Regions from separate parts of the Homo sapiens genome. Here region 1 is linked to region 2. Evidence: fine-mapped expression QTL. Tissue or cell type: minor salivary gland. Region 2 holds a variant in brackets; the other region holds the start of a gene. All regions are shown on one strand. Distances are from middle to middle.

Region 1 (8,103 bases), 34 kb before region 2:
CGGCCTCCCAAAGTGCTGGGATTACAGGCGTGAGCCACCGCGCCCGGCCTTAATTAAATTTTAAATGATGTTTTGGCAAGTTTGGATCATTTATGCTTCTGAAATTATGAAAGCTTAAAACTGCATTAAGATTTTGAGGACACCCAGTCTGCCGGGCTCAGATGTGACAGATTTCAACATCTAGCCCTAAGTGTAAAAAGACAGCAGTTTTTTCATGGGGCTGGATCTAAATAGAGTCCTCTTTTCCTTCCCTGGCTCCCCAACTCCCTCTGCCCAATGTCCAGTCCCAGCGCAGCCAGAGAGATTCTACATGCTTTCCTTCTGGCCACATGCGCATGTTAAAAGAGAAAGGCAGGCAGAAGGCAGTGTTCTTGGACTGGTTGAGAGCATACTTCGGTTCTTGCTCAGTCACTTTAACTCAATTCGGCAGACATTTCCTGAATGCTGACACTATCCTATCCACCCAGATACACCTGGGGCCCTCACGCAGGTCCTCTGCGTGTGCTCCTGGCTGCGTCTTCGTCTGTCTGTATGGTCAGTTTACTGAGCTCTCATCACATGCCATACCCATGAAAAAGATGACGGGGTCTGCACCATAGAACACATGATCATTAGCTCTCTACAAAGCCGTGTCCCATTTATGAACACAACTGCCCCCAATACCACTAAGACTGCTATGATCATACTACCTCCATCTGGAGAGAAAACCTAAGGCTCAGGAGGGTAAGTGAACTGCCCGAAGTCACAGTAAGTGGCAGAGGTGGCCTGAAAGACCAGGCAGCAAGCCCAGGCTCCCACCCTGCCTCCATCTTGACCTGCCATGTCCTAGCCGTTTGCTTGGTGGTTACTCAGCACCTGGGACCTTGAGGTCCTCATCCAAAGAGAAAAAAAATTAAGGTCTCTATAAGATGACTTTCCATGTATAAATATTAGAACCCTAAGTCTTAATTATAAAACCTCTGTGCAGTGGGCAAGGAGACCACCCATGTCACAGGAGAGGCTGTCAGGGTCTGGACAGCAAAGCTAGCTGAGGGGCAGCAGCCAGTGGTCACTAAGGGGCTGGGAACTTGTTAGTCTTCTCTTAACAAGATGGTTGCCAGCTTTTGTTGGACAGGGCCCTGACTCAGGTGTAGAGGATCTGAGCTGGAGCCTACATCTGCTAATGTCAAAAAAGTCATTAAAAACTAAATGACCTCAAAGCACCTTAACTTCCCAGAATCTGTTTATCTGTAAAATGGATCTAATACCTAACTCAAAGCATTGGGTGGAAAGTTAAATAAGACACCAGATATGAAAGCTTCATCCCTGCCCAATTGTAGAAAGGTTTCTCTGTGACCTACTAATTTGCACATCAATGCTATTATACCCAGCCCCCTCCTAAACCCATGCTCCTTTAAATATGACCATCAACCCACCCATTTATGTTCATAAATTCACTCCAACCTTCTCTGGCTCCTCACCCCATGGCTGCCTACTTTACCAAGTTCCCTGATAACATGCCCTTAGGTTTGGTTCTGAGATTGGAATGATTTTTTTTAAATCTTCTTCCCTCTATATTTTTGTATTACTTATTCAATTTTTTTTCTTTTTTTTTTTTTTTTTGAGACGGAGTCTCATTCTGTTGCCCAGGCTGGAGTACAATGGCGCAATCTCGGCTCACTGCAGCCTTTGCCTCCCAGGTTCAAGTGATTCTCCGGCCTCAGCCTCCCCAGTAGCTGGGATTACAGGCACATGCCACCATGCCCGGCTAATTTTTGTATTTTTAGTAGAGACGGAGTTTCACCATGTTGGCCAGGCTGGTTGTGAACTCTTGACCTCAGGTGATCCACCCTCCTCGGCCTCCCAAAGTGCTCGGATGACAGGCACGGGCCACTGCGCTTGGCCTTGACTATTCTTAAAATATTCTTGCATGCACATGCAGACACTGACCTACACATCATTACCACCACTACCACTCAAACAGCCCACCTGAGGGGCCTAGCTGGCAACCCCAGGATATCCCCCACTGAACACTGTGACCCTGAGCATGCCACTGCCTCTATAAACTTCAAGTTATCTCATCTGTGAAACAAGAAGTCAGGCCAACTTGACAAGACTCAAGCCCCTTCCACGGGTAGCATTCTGAGAAACCATGGGTATGGTGCAAGAGAAGGACAGACAAACATACTCTGTCCACCATCCTGCCTAAACCTTTGTGTATGAGGCTGACAAGGGTTACAATGGGTGACATTCACAAGGAGAGAATCTCTCCCTTGTTCCTTGCAAAAGCCCTGGGAAGTAGGTGCACCTATCTCCACTAAACAGATGAGCAAACTGAGGCACAGAAGCCATTTCTCTCTGCCTCCTACCCCACCCACGGCATCACCAGCACTGTTTTAAACACCATCCCTTCACTCGAGTAACTACCATGTGTCAGGCACTATGCTAGACCCTGGGAGCCTCGGGCACAGTGTGAGTAAGTCCCAAGTGGGCCCTCTCTGCTAGAAATCAGGGTTGCAAATACAGACCCCACCTCATCCTCCTCCCTCTCTCCTCAGAGGTAGGTGCTTCAGAGAATCCTAACATTCATGGAGCACCCAAGCCCTCTCATAGGAGGTTAACACATTTCTACTCATGTAATCCTCATCACAGTTCTCCGAGTTAGATTCTATATGTTATGACAGATGAGGAAAGTGAGGCGCAAAGAGGTTAAAAAACTTACACCAGGTCATCCCACATCCAGGTAGTGGCAACCCAGATTCACACGCAGTAGTTATTCTGATCCTAAGTATGTGCTCTGGACCGCTACATCCTAAGGCCTCCTCTTTAGGGACTGATCTCCCAAGGCTCAGAGAAGAGCCCTGTCTCCAACATGCAGCAAGCCTGAAGCCCAGTCGGGCGGTGACCAATCGTCCTGGTTTGGCCAGGCCCGAGGGAGTTCCCAGGACGCCGGACCTTAAGTTTTAAAACTAAAACGAGTTGGTCACCCTAAGTCCAGGACTCCTGCCACTTCCCCAGAGCAGGAGTGAGATCTGAATGGAACTCCTTCCTCCATGCGTAACCCAGAGGGGCTGACGGTGGAAATCCCGTCCCTCCCCTACTCACTCTCTGAGCCCCAGCCTCCCAGGTCGGACCTCTGGGCCACCACCCCTCACCTCTCAGCCAGCGCCCGCCAACGGTTTCAACCGGCCGCGGGGAGCACGTGGACTCGCCGCCGCCAGCCCAGCGCCGCAGCTACCTGCCTCTCAGGCTTCGCGGTGCAGAATTCGCTTCTGAACCACCCAGCGCGCCTGCGCACCGCGGCCACGCCCCCCCCAGTGGAAGTGACGCCAACGGAAGCAGGAAGGCGGTTCCGGCAAGCCAAGGGGGCGTTGTCGTGATGATTCCGCGGCCAGCGGATCGCTGCGAGTGGCCTTGAAGGCAGCTGCTGCAGGTGAAGAGTAGGCGGCGGGGCAGAGAGCGGCCTCCGAGGGTAAGGTGGCCGGCCTTGCGAAGGCGTGCGGGGCTGGCGCTGGTGGGAATGGCCCGGAAGGGAAGGGAGGCCGGGCGCCCGAAGGTGGCCCAGAAGGGCATGGACCCACCGCTCCTTCCCGTCTCTGGGCACTCGAGGATACCCGGGGGGTTGGCGGCTCCTGCGAGAGTCAGCGAGCATTTGCTCTGTGCCGGGCATCACAGGGGACGCGGACTGAGACCCAGACGGCCAGGTTCCGGGCCTGGGAGCCGGGCCTTCTCCCTGGTGCAGCTTCCTCGGCCTGGAAACCCCACCCGCGCCCTCTCATCTCCAGGCTTTGCCCGCTGGAAGCCAGCCCGGCCCGCCTCCGCTACGCGCTGCCCATCTCTCGGCTTCTGTTTCCTTCCACGCTGTAGTTGAGAGTAGCGCTTAAGACGACAGAGCCCACAGCCTAGCTCAGTTTCATTACGGTGTGGCCTCTTTGTGCCTCAGCCCCGCATCTGTAAAGCGAATGTCATAGCGGCACCTGCGTCCCTGGAACCTTGTCGTATTTCATGAGTTGGTGCATGTAAATCGCTTAGACTAGTGGCTGCCACTTAGTAAGTACTCAATAAACGTTAGCTCTTCTCAGCCCTTAAAACAGGGTCTGGCACACAGTGGTGGTCACTAGGTGTTTGTTGCTTAAATGAATGAATGAAAGTTGAGTGGAGGATGCACAGAGTATTGTGAGAAACCTTCACTCCCAAGGTGTGTGTATATGGGTGATAAGGTTTCACTCTGAAAGTGAGCAGTGTTGGGCCTGGAATAGAAGGTGTATTAGTTTGCTAGGACTGCAAACAAAATACTGGGTGGCTTAAACAACAGAAATTTATTATTTTCTCACAGTTCTGGAGGTTAGAAGTCCAAGATCAAGGTGTCTTCAGGTTTGGTTTCTTCTGAGACATTTCTCCTTGGCTTGCACGTGGCTGCTTTCTTGCTGTGTCCTCGCATGGTCTTTCCTCTGTGTTTTCACATCTCTGGCGTCTCTCTTTGCATCCAGATTTCCTCTTTATGAGAACGTCAGTCAGGTTGTATTAGGGCCCACCTTAATGGCCTCATTTTAACTTAATTACCTTCTTACAAGCCTGATCTCCAAATACAATCACATTCTGGAGTGCTGGGGGAACAGTTTAACCATAACAGAAGGAATTCACAGAAATGGACAAGGAGGGAAATACTTTCCAACAGAAGTGACAGAATGGCCAGGAGGCTTAAAAGCAGGGTGCTCAAGATGTTTTTTGTGTTCAGGGCACATATGTGTACTTCAGTCTTGTTTGTGCTCTCGTACTGTTTTTGGGTTTGGTTGTTGTTGTTTGTTTGTTTGTCCTCCTGAATACTCAAAGAAAGTGAGCCCTCTCATTTTTTTAGTCTGGCAAACTTAACTCACATTTCAGCATAGATGTGTCTTCCAGGAAGTTTTCCCTGACCCTCCCTCCCAAATTAATTTCTGCTTCCTCCATTTAATAACTTTGGTACAGGGCTGGGTGCGGTGGCTCACGCCTGTAATCCCAGCGCTTTGGGAGGCCGAGGCAGGCAGCTCCTGAGGTCAAGAGATAGAGACCAGCCTGGCCAACATGGTGAAACCCTGTAAACCCCATCTCTACTAAGAGTACCAAAATTAGGCGGGTGTGGTGGCGCATGCCTGTAATCCCAGCACTTTGGGAGGCTGAGGCGAGTGGATCATTTGAGGTCAGGAGTTTGACACCAGCCTGGCCAACATGGTGAGACCCCCACCCCTCGTCCTTACTAAAAATACAAAAATTAGCTGGGTGTGGTGGTGCATGCCTGTAATCCCAGCTACTCGGGAGGCTGAGGCAGAAGAATCGCTTGAACCCAGGAGGTGGAGGTTGCACTGAGCCGAAAGCACACCACTCCACTCCAGCCTGGTCAACTGAGCAAGACTGCGTCTCGGAAAAAAATAAAAAATAACTCTGGTACAGTGCAACGATACTTGTTTTTCCCACTAGACTGATGCTTCATGAAGACATGGATGACCGTATCTGATGTGTTTGCCATCGTACCTTCAGTGCCTAGCGCATAATGGGCATTGTGTAAAGTTAAGTGAATGATGGAAAACTGAGACACAGAGCCTGTGAAGAGTAGGGAACACATCTGTTCCGTTTGTCAGCATTCCATCCTCGCGACAATCTGTTGCACATGTTAGGCACACAGTATCTGTTTAACCCAATTGGCCTTCCCAGTATGATAAGAGTCAGCATAAAGCTAAGACAAGATTCCAGGTTTGTTGCTTCAAGCCAGTGCTTTTATGAGTAGGGTGGAGGTGAGGAGCTACAAGTAAGCCATTTGGAAAGTATGATGATGGGCAGACTCCTTAGGAGCCCTCTGAGGTAAGCTTGACTTTAAGGTGCGTGAACTGTGGGCCCTTGGAGAAGTAATCTATTAATGGCACTGCTGAAAAAACATCCACAAATTCTATCCAGTAGTATTTGACCTGTTGGTAGAATTGAGGGGCCTTTGCTCTAGGAGTCCTCTCTGCAGGTTGAAATTCCATTCTGGCTGTTGTTTTCTTTAGAAGCATTTCTTCATTCACATTGATCTAAACTTTTTCTTGTTTCTTTTCCCCCCATATTTTCATTTTTTGACGCCATTCATACCATCTTTCCACCATCACATTCCTTGTATAGATTTGTAGCTTTTAGAACTAGGAAAAAACCTCTAAAAGAGATCATCTAGTCCAATAGGGGACCTCTCCATTTTTATAGATGAAAAACTGAGGCCCAGAGTCTCATCCATCCAGAAATATGTATTGAGTGCCTATTATGTCAAAGACACTCTGCTAGGCACCAGAGATACATTGTTCAATAAGACAGATGGAGTCCATGTCTTCACCACAGAAAATTTTTACTGCTTGTCACTAGGTGAGTTAGTCGCAAAGATGGAAGAGAACCTTCTGCTCCTTCTCTCACGCTATAACACCTTGTGTAGCACATCTTAGTCCTGAATTGTGCAGTTCCTTAATGCAAAGCTTGTCTGTGGGATTACCTGGACAATCAGGCATAGGCAGTAGACTGAAGAGGCAGCTGATTCCGATCAAAGGAAACAGTGGTTATGAATGCGGCTTTGGTGTCAGATTCCCTGGCTCTGAATCCCACCTCTGTCCCTTATTACTTACCTATTTTTAGCTGTGTGACCATCTTCTCTGTATATGGTCAGGTTTTCTGTTGCTGTGTAACACTCTACCCCCAAATTTAGTGACTCAAAAACTATTTTATCTCATAATTCTGCAGGTTAGGTATTCAGGCAGGTGTCAGCTGAGAAATTCTTCAATTCTATGTGGTGTCAACTGGGATCACTCAGTGGCATTCAGTTGGAGGAGGGGCCAGCCTGGAGAGGTCAGGATGGCTTTCCTGGGAGCCAGCTGAACCCTTCTCTGTCTCCATGTGTTCTCTCTAGCTGGGCATCTTACAGGTGGCTCAGGCCTTCCATAGCCACTGTTCTGAAAGATGGGAAGTGGAAGCTGTTAGCTCTTTAAAGGCCTGGGCCTGGGAAATGAGCACAGCTTTGTAGCACAGAATCTGATTAAGGCAGAGCCTGTGCAGGAGGGAAGGAGACCTAGACTCCACTACCCCATGGGAGAATCATCGGAGAATTTGTGGCCATCTTAAATCTGACAAATTCCTCATTGTCCTCACCTGTAAAATGTGGATAATAGTAGCACCTATCTTATGGTAAATGAGTTAATAAGTGTAAAGGGCTTAGAATAGTGCCTGGCATCTAGGAAACATAAGTATTTGTCATAATCATTACTATTATTAGGTATAAGATACATTTTTGTTTATAATTGACAGAACACATAAGAAATGTAAGATACAATTTTTTTTCCAGACCTTTTTATAACCTCATTGGGGTTTCCAGACCTTTTAATAACCTTATTGGGGTTTCCAGACCTTTTTATAACCTTACTGGGGAGGTACAGGATTGACATCATGAAGTAATTTAGAGAACTATACAAAATGATATGGAATAATAATAATTATTATTTTGAGATGGAGTCTCGTTCTGTTGCCCAGGCTGGAGTGCAGTGGTGCAATCTCGGCTCACTGGAACCTCGGCCTTCTGGGTTCAAGCGATTCTCCTGCCTCAGCCTCCAGAGTAGCTGGTATTATAGGCATGCGTCACCACGCCTGGCTAATTTTTGTATTTTTAGTGGAGATGGTTTCTTCGTGTTGGCTAGACTGGTCTCGAACTCGTAGCCTTAGGTGATCCGCCTGCCTCGGCCTCCCAAAGTGGTAGAATTACAAGCATGAGCCACCGCACCCAGCCTCTAATTCCTATAGTAAAAGTAAATTGTGTAACAGTTAATAACTGCCTAGCATCATAACTCTGGGGGTCATTCCAAATAACTTTTTCCTTTATCACTTCTATAGAGCTAGAAAATGTCTAATTTTCTAATTAGACATTTACCTAATATACCTAGACATTTACATTTGTATAATTAGACATTTTTACCTAATTTTAACAGGTCTGTGGAGGAGGGTTTCGTGTGTGTGTGTGTGTGTGTGTGTGTGTGTGTGTGTGTGTGTGTTTAATGTCTTTTTTCCCGTGGGCGATAGCATAGCATAAAAGCATAGACTCCAGTGTTTGGGGGCCAGGATTCAAATCCTGCCTTTGGC
Region 2 (8,103 bases):
AGCAGGCTGGTGTTAAGGCTGTAGGAGGACCCAGTTTCCCCATGACAGTGCCTTCTAACTAGCCAGAGAATAGGTAGCTTCCCTCCTGATGATGGCTCATAATCTGAAGCATCTTGAGCTGGGGGTGTGAGGGGGAGGGCCTGCTGGCTCACCGTGAGGCAGCCGCGGGAGGGAGCGCTGACGTCACAGAAGCGAAGGCTTGATGCTGTCTCAGCAGCCTCAGCTGTGGGGGGGAAGCGCGTGTGCATCGTGTCAACTACTGTACATGTTGGTCATGTGAAAGGAATTATATATGTATAGTATTACAAGTATTTTTGCATTTTTACAAGATTGAAATTTGTAGCATTTTGTATTATTTACACAGAATTTATTTGTATATGAAACTCATACCATAATTTAATTCGAATAAATGAAACTTTTCTATATATTATATGTTTCCTCTAGCATTTTTATTAATCTAAAGACTATAGGGGTATAAAAATAAATAGCAGCGAGGACTCACTCTGCAAGGATAAGAACCTCATTGGTCAGTCTCCCTCCTGGTACAGCGGGTTTCTCAGTGGTCAGAACTGCCTGACTCCTGGCTGCCACTTACTGGCAAGGTCATGGGTGAGCTGTTCACCCTCTCAGGATCTTCTCTGGAGTTTCTTTTTTGCAGTATGAGAGGAACATCTTCCAGTATTTTCACAAGGCTTGTCTGATCTGAGCACTCACTTGAAAATACCTGCCCGGCGCCTGGCCCTTGACAGGGCGTTCTAAATATTTACTTCCCCTTCCCAGCGGGCTTGACAGCCTCTGCAGGAAGGAGATGTGCCCGTGGCTCTGTCGCTGGAATATCAAGGTGAGACTGGGGATGTGGCACGTCACAGGTGATCTGCTTATAGCACTGCCTGCACGGAAGACTGGAGAGCACCCTACACGGAGGACTGTGTGGAGAGCACCCTCGAATACTCGTGAGCAGCTCTAACTCAGAAGTACAAGATACTCAACGAGAGACCAGTGAGGAGGAGAGGATTTTCATAGAAAAACAGCACAGTTGCAGAGTAGGGCATCAGCTCTGAAGTCCATTACAGGTGCATTTCGTGTTTTCCCATCCATCAGCTGCACTACGCTTCTGCCAGGCTGGCTCAGCGAGCATCTGTTGTCCCCATTGCACACATGGAGTGAACTTGGAACACAATGGCCGCACGTGAGTGCAGATCTTCCTCCTTCCTCCCCATGTCCTCTCCTCTCATGGCCTCCTCTGGCTCCTCCCTCATCCCAACTCGTGTAGCTCTTCAGCCTCCCAGCACCTACAGTGCATCCATCCCCTTAGCTGTCCCTGTGGACCCTCCTTGGCCATGGTTCACCCACCAACCCCTTTATCCATTCCACCTGGTGAACCTCCAGCACTACACACAGGGAGCCCAGCCAGGCTGGTGAGAAACAGCCATTCTCTAGTTTCTACAGCTCTCCTGAGCCCCCGCCGTATCCTACAATCCCCTCTCCTTGATCCAGGCGACGTGCTGCCCTAGGCACTTGTGTCACATCTTCTCAGACCTCTGCAGCTCGCCTGTCCTCCTCCTTATGGCCTTGCTTCCTATTTCTCTCAGAACCTAGAAGCAAATAGGGGCCAGGCGTGGTGGCTCACACCTGTAATCTCAACACGTTGGGAGGCTGAGGCAGGTGGGTCACTTGAGGTCAGGAGTTCGAGACCAGCCTGGCCAACATGGTGAAACCTCATCTCTACTAAAAATACAAAAATTAGGTATACTGCCACATGCCTGTAGTCCCAGCTACTCAGGAGGCTGAGGCACGAGAATCGCTTGAACCTGGGAAGCGGAGGTTGCAGTGAGATCGCACCTCTGCACTCCAGCCTGGGCAACCGAGCAAGGCTGTCTCAAAAAAAAAAAAAAAAAAAAAGGAAAAGAAAAAAGAAACAAATAGGAAAGAACATTCCTCAAGCTCCCATAACACCTCCCTACCTCCCCACATCTGTGCCCGTGGACTCTGCACTTTCCCATCTAAAACCAACCTGCCCCCAACCCCTTGATTTCCCACCTCTGCTTTTTCTCACTAAGTCTTATTATCACCATCTGACCTACTATATAATCTTCCCCTATTACGATGTAACCTCTTCTTTTTTTTTTTTTAAATAGATACAGAGTCTCACTATGTTGCCCAGGCTGGTCTCAAACTCCTGAGCTCAAGTAATCCTCCCGCTTAGGCCTCCCAAAGTGCTAGGATTACGGGCATGAGCCACCGAGCCTGGCCAGGATATAAACTCTTTGTGTCTCTTTTGTTCACTGCTTTATCCTCAGTGCCCAGAACAGTGCCTGACCCTAAATGCTCAGTAACAAATAGTCAAATGAATGTCTTTGGAATACTTTTTAGTCAAAATACTGGACCTCCTAGATTGATTGATTTTTTTCTCCTGAACCTTGTTCATCAGACTCCACTGAAATACTTTTTGCCCAGGTGGCCCACGACCTCCCCATTGCTAAACCGAGTGAGAATTCTCAGTCCCCTTCCTAATGACTCTGAGGCAGGATATGACACGTCGGCAGCAAGTGCATTCCTTTTTTCTCCTTGAAACAACAACCAAGAGGACCACTCCTGCTAGGATTCCCCTTCATGCACGGGTGGCTCTGTCTTGGACTCCTTCCCCTACCCCAACACACATCTTAAAGTTGGGGTGCCCCAACTTTAAGAACACAGGCCCTGGACCTCCTCTCCGGCCTTGGCTCTGTCCCTAGGCCATCTCCTCAATGACAGAGCAGGAGCACTGTCATCTTGGACAAACAACTCCAAAAGTTCCAGCTCCCTTTCTAACCTCATGCGTTTCAAGGAAATGCAGCCAGGAAGAGCAGACAATGAAACACAGATAAGACAGCTTGAGCACAGAGGGAGGAGGGAAAGTCTCTTCGTAACCACCAAACTTCACCCTCATACAATGGGCCCCAGTAAAACAGTGGGCCCTAATAAGCACATTTCTTTCCCTTTAGGCATGCTGAGATAGGGAAGCTAAAAGCAAACTCGGGTGGTATGCCTGCAGCTGCAGGAAGATGTGTGGGAACAGATGCAAAAACTCTCCCTCCCAGATAAGCAAGACAAAGAGACACAGAAACATTCCGAGCCTGTGATAAGCTCTCCCACCCTGAACCCTTAAATACTCTTATTTTGTAAGAGAGAGGGCCTCTGACCTAAGTCGGCCAGAAGCCCCTCTCAGGTTTATTTTCCAAAATAACCTATCTTTGACTGTTGAGTGGCTTTTCATGTTTCTTTCCTCTTTATTTAACTCTTACACTCACATCTCATGACCTTAAATACTGTCTGCCCATGACTCCTCCCAAAACTCTGGATTCCTGTCCTGAGCTGCCTACCAGCGTCTTCACAGACACCCCAGACTAAGAGCTTTCAAGACCAAGCTCCTTGTCTTCTCAATTCATGGCCACCTTATTAAATGGCAATCCTGTTCCTCCAGGATTTTACTCAGACTAAAAACCTTAAGAGTTATCTTACTTCATCAGTATAAGTATGGAGGTGCCTCCTGTATGCCAGGTGCTGGATTTGCCAAAGGCTCAGAAAACAAGACCCCTAGGCCAAGTCACATTTTTGAATAAATCTGCTTGATGAGGACAATAATTTGCTCTTGTAGAATAAAACTTTAGGGAATAGCATTAAAACCAAAGCTCTCAGCTGGGCTCAATGGCTCATGCCTGTAATTCCAGCACTTTGGGAGGCTGAGGTGGGTAGATGTCAAGAGTTCAAGACCAGCCTGGCCAACATGGTGAAACCCCATCTCTACTAAAAATACAAAAATCAGCTGGGTGTGGTGGCAGGTGCCTGTGATCCCAGCTACTCAGGAGGCTGAGACAGGAGAATCGCTTGAACCAGGAGGCGGAGGTTGCAGTGAGCTGAGATAGTGCCACTGCGCCCCAGCCTGGGCAACAGAATGAGGCTCTGTCTCCAAAAACAAACAAACCAAAACCCCAAAGCCCTTTTCATTCACATTTCCTGTCTCTTCCTTTTCTGTTCTTGTTACCCTGGCCCCAAAGCCTTATCCTAAAGAAAGAAAATCTCAGAAGAGGTGAAAAGGCTTGCATATGCATGAGTGCAAACTTGGACAGCAAATTATCTGACAGCGGACCAGACCTTGACCTTGTGCTGTAGACACAGCATGGGCCATCCACAGCAAGAATAACAGTGTGTGTGTGCGTGTGTGTTCCCGCATGTGTGCACACACCTTTTATCCCAGTCAGGACACCAGGACTGTGTTCTTGGCTCCATCGCTAGCTGACTGTGCGACAAATGCCCTCTTCTCACTGGTCTTCAGTGTCCTGACATGCAATGGCTACAGAATTTCCATTTTAGAGCTCTATGATTTTCTAAGAATGGCCCATGGCTAGGTTTCTGTAGAACCTTCCAGCGTCAAGACCTGGCTTCCATTACCAAGTTGGAAGCAGAGGCCAAGAGGCTGGGCAGATCATCAGAAAACCCCCAGCATCTCAAAATGTCTGAGTGGAAAGGGACCTTAGCAACTGTACCCTATTCCATGGGCTTCAACCTTTTGTGACTCAGCTGGAAGACTTGTTGACAATGCAGATGTTTGGAAATGATTCTATAGGTTGGGGCAAGGCCTAGGAATCTGCA[G/A]TTAACTGGTTTTCTAGATGATTCTGAGGCAGGGAGTGCAAGGACAGTACTTGAAGGCATGCTGATCTAGTGTGAATCCCGCATTGTACAGACACCCTGAAATGTGAAGTGACTTGCTGGATAATAACAGTAGCTAGGACATATTGTGTCTATCATGTGCCAGCACAATGGTAAACGCTCTGCAAGTCAACTCAAGCTTCATAAGAGCCCTGTAAGGTGTATCTCATAATTACCCCACGGACAGTTGGGGAAAGTGACTCCCTGAGAGGTCAAGGAACTTGCCCAATACCACCTAGCCAGGAGAGTTGGGTCCCAAAGTTCCAGGATGACCTGGTGGCAAGCCCCAAGCCAGGATCAGATGCAGCCTGGAATGGAGCGCAGGGTTCACCTGCCGGGTTGTGATGGATCTGGAGAGACACCTACTGCTATTGTATTCATGATACTCATCACCCATCCTGCTCCAGGAGCATCTTGCATTCTTCCCTATTATTTTAACTACTTTTTGAGACAGGGTCTCACTTTGTTGCCCAGGCTGGAGTGCAGTGGTGATCACGGCTCATGGCAACCTCAACCTCCCATGCTCATGTGATCTTCCCACCTCAGCCTCCCAAATAGTCTGGGACCACAGGGAAGTACCACCATGCCTGACTAAATTTTTTTTTTTACTTTTTGTAGAGATGGAGTCTCACTATGTTGCCCAGGCTGGTCTGGAACTCCTGGCCTCAAGTGATCCTCCCACCTCAATTTCCCGAGTATCTGGGACCACAGGCATGCACCACCATGGCCGGCTAATTTTTAAATTTTTTTTTGTAGAGACGGGGTCTCACTATGTTGCCCAGGCTGATCTCAAACACCTCAACTCGAGAAATTCTCACACCTCGGCCTCCCAAAGTGCTGGGATTACAGGCGTGAGCCACAGTGCCCAGCCACTTCTTTTTTCTTAAATTACTCAAGTAATAATACATGGACAACAGGAAAATATATCAGAAAATACAAAGAAGTAAAAAGGAAAAAAGGCCTTCATGCATCGCATGCGTTCTCTCGTGAAGTCCCTTGACAATCCGATACGGCGGCACACTGTTCACATCTCAGTTTATTTCCTATCAGACATTTCCCTCTGCAATCAGACAAAAAGAAATATAGACTCTTGAAGGTTTTTATTTTATTTTATTTTATTTTTTTGACAGAGTCTCACTCAGTCCCCCAGGCTGGAGGGCAGTGGCGCTATCTCGGCTCACTGCAAGCTCTGCCTCCCAGGTTCACGCCATTCTCCTGCCTCAGCCTCCCGAGTAGCTAGGACTACAGGCGCCCGCCACCACGCCTGGCTATTTTTCTTTTCTTTTTTCTTTTTTTTTTTTTCTGTATTTTTAGTAGAGACGGGGTTTCACAGTGTTAGCCAGGATGGTCTCGATCTCCTGACCTCGTGATCCGCCCGCCTCGGCCTCCAAAGTGCTGGGATTACAGGCGTGAGCCACCTCTCCCTGCGAACGCTTTTCAAAGTAGCTTATACCGTACAACCTACTTTGTAATCCGCCTTTCATGTAGCAAATTGCCATAAACACCTTCCCTTGTCAGAAAACGTGTGTTTCGACACTGACTCTGAATCCCTGTGAAACTCCGGTCACTTTCCTTCAGCTCAGGACGTCTGTGAAGGCCCCACATGGTTCTGAGCAGGCGGGAGGAACTCGGTCCAAGCCCCTCTTCCCTGAACTCCCAGGGCTACAGCGTTTCCTTCCAGCCGCCAGATGACAACATAGCCACTGGCAACAGGCAGAGACGTGGCCCGGCTGTTCCCCGTGTTAAGGCCACCAGCAGGGGCAGCATTTCTGCAACCCTGGGCAGCTGACCAAGCACACTGGGGACCTTCCCCTTCGACCCCCAGGGGCCCGTTGGAGAGTGGCACTCTCTCTTGCCCCGGTTTGGAGGCGCGTGTCCTGAGAAGGGAAGTCGGTCAAGTATTTTTCACCCTGTTGAGCTGACTGTGGCCTGGACTTTAGCGTTCAGGCTGGAGCTGCCCTAGGAGCAACCCAGCCCGGGGCCCCACCTCCCAGCTCCCAACAGGCGCCGCATCTGACAGCAGCGTGAACTTGGCCAAGCTCCCGGGGGGGCCTCGGTGACCACGCCCGGCCTATTATCCCATTTTTATGAAATGTCCAGAGCAGACAAATCCACAGAGACAGAAAGTAAGTTAGTGGTGACCAGGGTCTGGGGGAGAGGGAATGGGGAGTGACTGACTGCTCACTGGGTTTCTGTGAGGGTTGATGAAAAAGTTCTGGAACTAGAGACTGGTTGTTATGGACTGGACTGTTTCCCCCTCCCCCTAAAATTCACATGTTGAACCCCCTAATCCCAAAGGTGACTGTATTTGGAGCTGGGGCAGTTAAGGAAGTAATAAGGGTTAAATTAGGTCATAAGGATGGGGCCCTGACTCCATAGGATTGGAGTCCTTAGAAGAAAAGGAAGAGACACCAGATTCTCTGCCTCTCTCTGCACATGCGGAAAGACCATGTGGGAATACAGAGAGAAGGCTGGGCTGTCTGCAAGCCAGGAAGAGAGGCCTCACCAGAAATCAATGCTGCTGACACCTTTTTTTCCTTTTTTTTTTTAAAAAAACCAAAAAAAACAAAGAGACAAGGTCTTGCTCTGTCAACCAGGCTGGAGTACAGTGATGCACTCCTGGCTCACCATAGCCTCCCCCTAGGCTCAAGCAATCCTCCTGCCTCAGCCTCCTTAGTAAACTATAGGCACATGCCATCATGTCTGGCTAATTTTTATTTTTTGTAGAGATGGGATCTCACTTTGTTGCCCTGGCTGATCTCAAACTCTTGGCCTCAAGCGATTCTCCCTTCTGGGCCTCCTAAAGTACTGGGGTTACCAGTGTGAGCCACTACAGCCAGCCTGCTGGCACCTTAAACCTTAGACTTCCAACCTCCAGAACTGTGAGAAAAAAACCGTAATCCCCCCAGCGTGCGGTATCTTGTTATATCAGCCAGAGCAGACTAATACAGTGGGGGTGGTTGCACAACCTTGTACACACACTAAATGCCACTGAATTGTACACTTTAAAATGGTGAAAATAGTAAATTTCATGTTGTGTGTATTTTACCACAATAAATAATATTAACAGCCAAGTAGCCCTATCCCACAGGACTGCTGTGAGGATGACATGAGTTTAGCTGGTGTCCAGGTGGCTGCTTCCAGAGTCTACACCCACGGGCTGAAGCTGAATCCAGCTCCCCTGTAGAGCAGAGTTCAAAATGGAACACAGTCTCCTTCATGCCGCTTCTTGCCACAGAAGTGGGAGCAGCAACTACAGAGCCTGGTGTTCTGGGGCTGCTGCTTCAGTTCAGCTGCTTCTTTTTTTTTTTTTTTTTTTTGAGATGGAGTCTCATTCTGTCGCCCAGGCTGGAGCGCAGTGGTGCAATCTCAGCTCACTGCAACCTCCACTTCCTGGGTTCAAGCAATTCTCTC

Evidence for each region. PIP is the estimated chance that this variant, and not a neighbour inherited with it, causes the effect.
Region 1: ZBTB49 starts here. The variant in region 2 is fine-mapped to the expression of ZBTB49 in minor salivary gland (GTEx, PIP 0.92).

What each region holds. Positions count from the first base shown.
Region 1 is chr4:4,286,902-4,295,004 of GRCh38, forward strand. It overlaps ZBTB49 (zinc finger and BTB domain containing 49), which reads left to right and starts at 3,350. Exons shown (of 8, transcript NM_145291.4): 1 at 3,350-3,451. It overlaps LYAR (Ly1 antibody reactive), which reads right to left and starts at 3,253. Exons shown (of 10, transcript NM_017816.3): 1 at 3,135-3,253. RefSeq lists enhancers at 1,202-1,740, 1,741-2,278.
Region 2 is chr4:4,321,357-4,329,459 of GRCh38, forward strand. ZBTB49 (zinc finger and BTB domain containing 49) reads left to right here. Exons shown (of 8, transcript NM_145291.4): 8 at 1-427. Among named protein-coding and RNA genes, the nearest start is that of ZBTB49, 35 kb to the left of the region's middle. The variant G/A (reference allele first, on the strand shown) is at 4,633.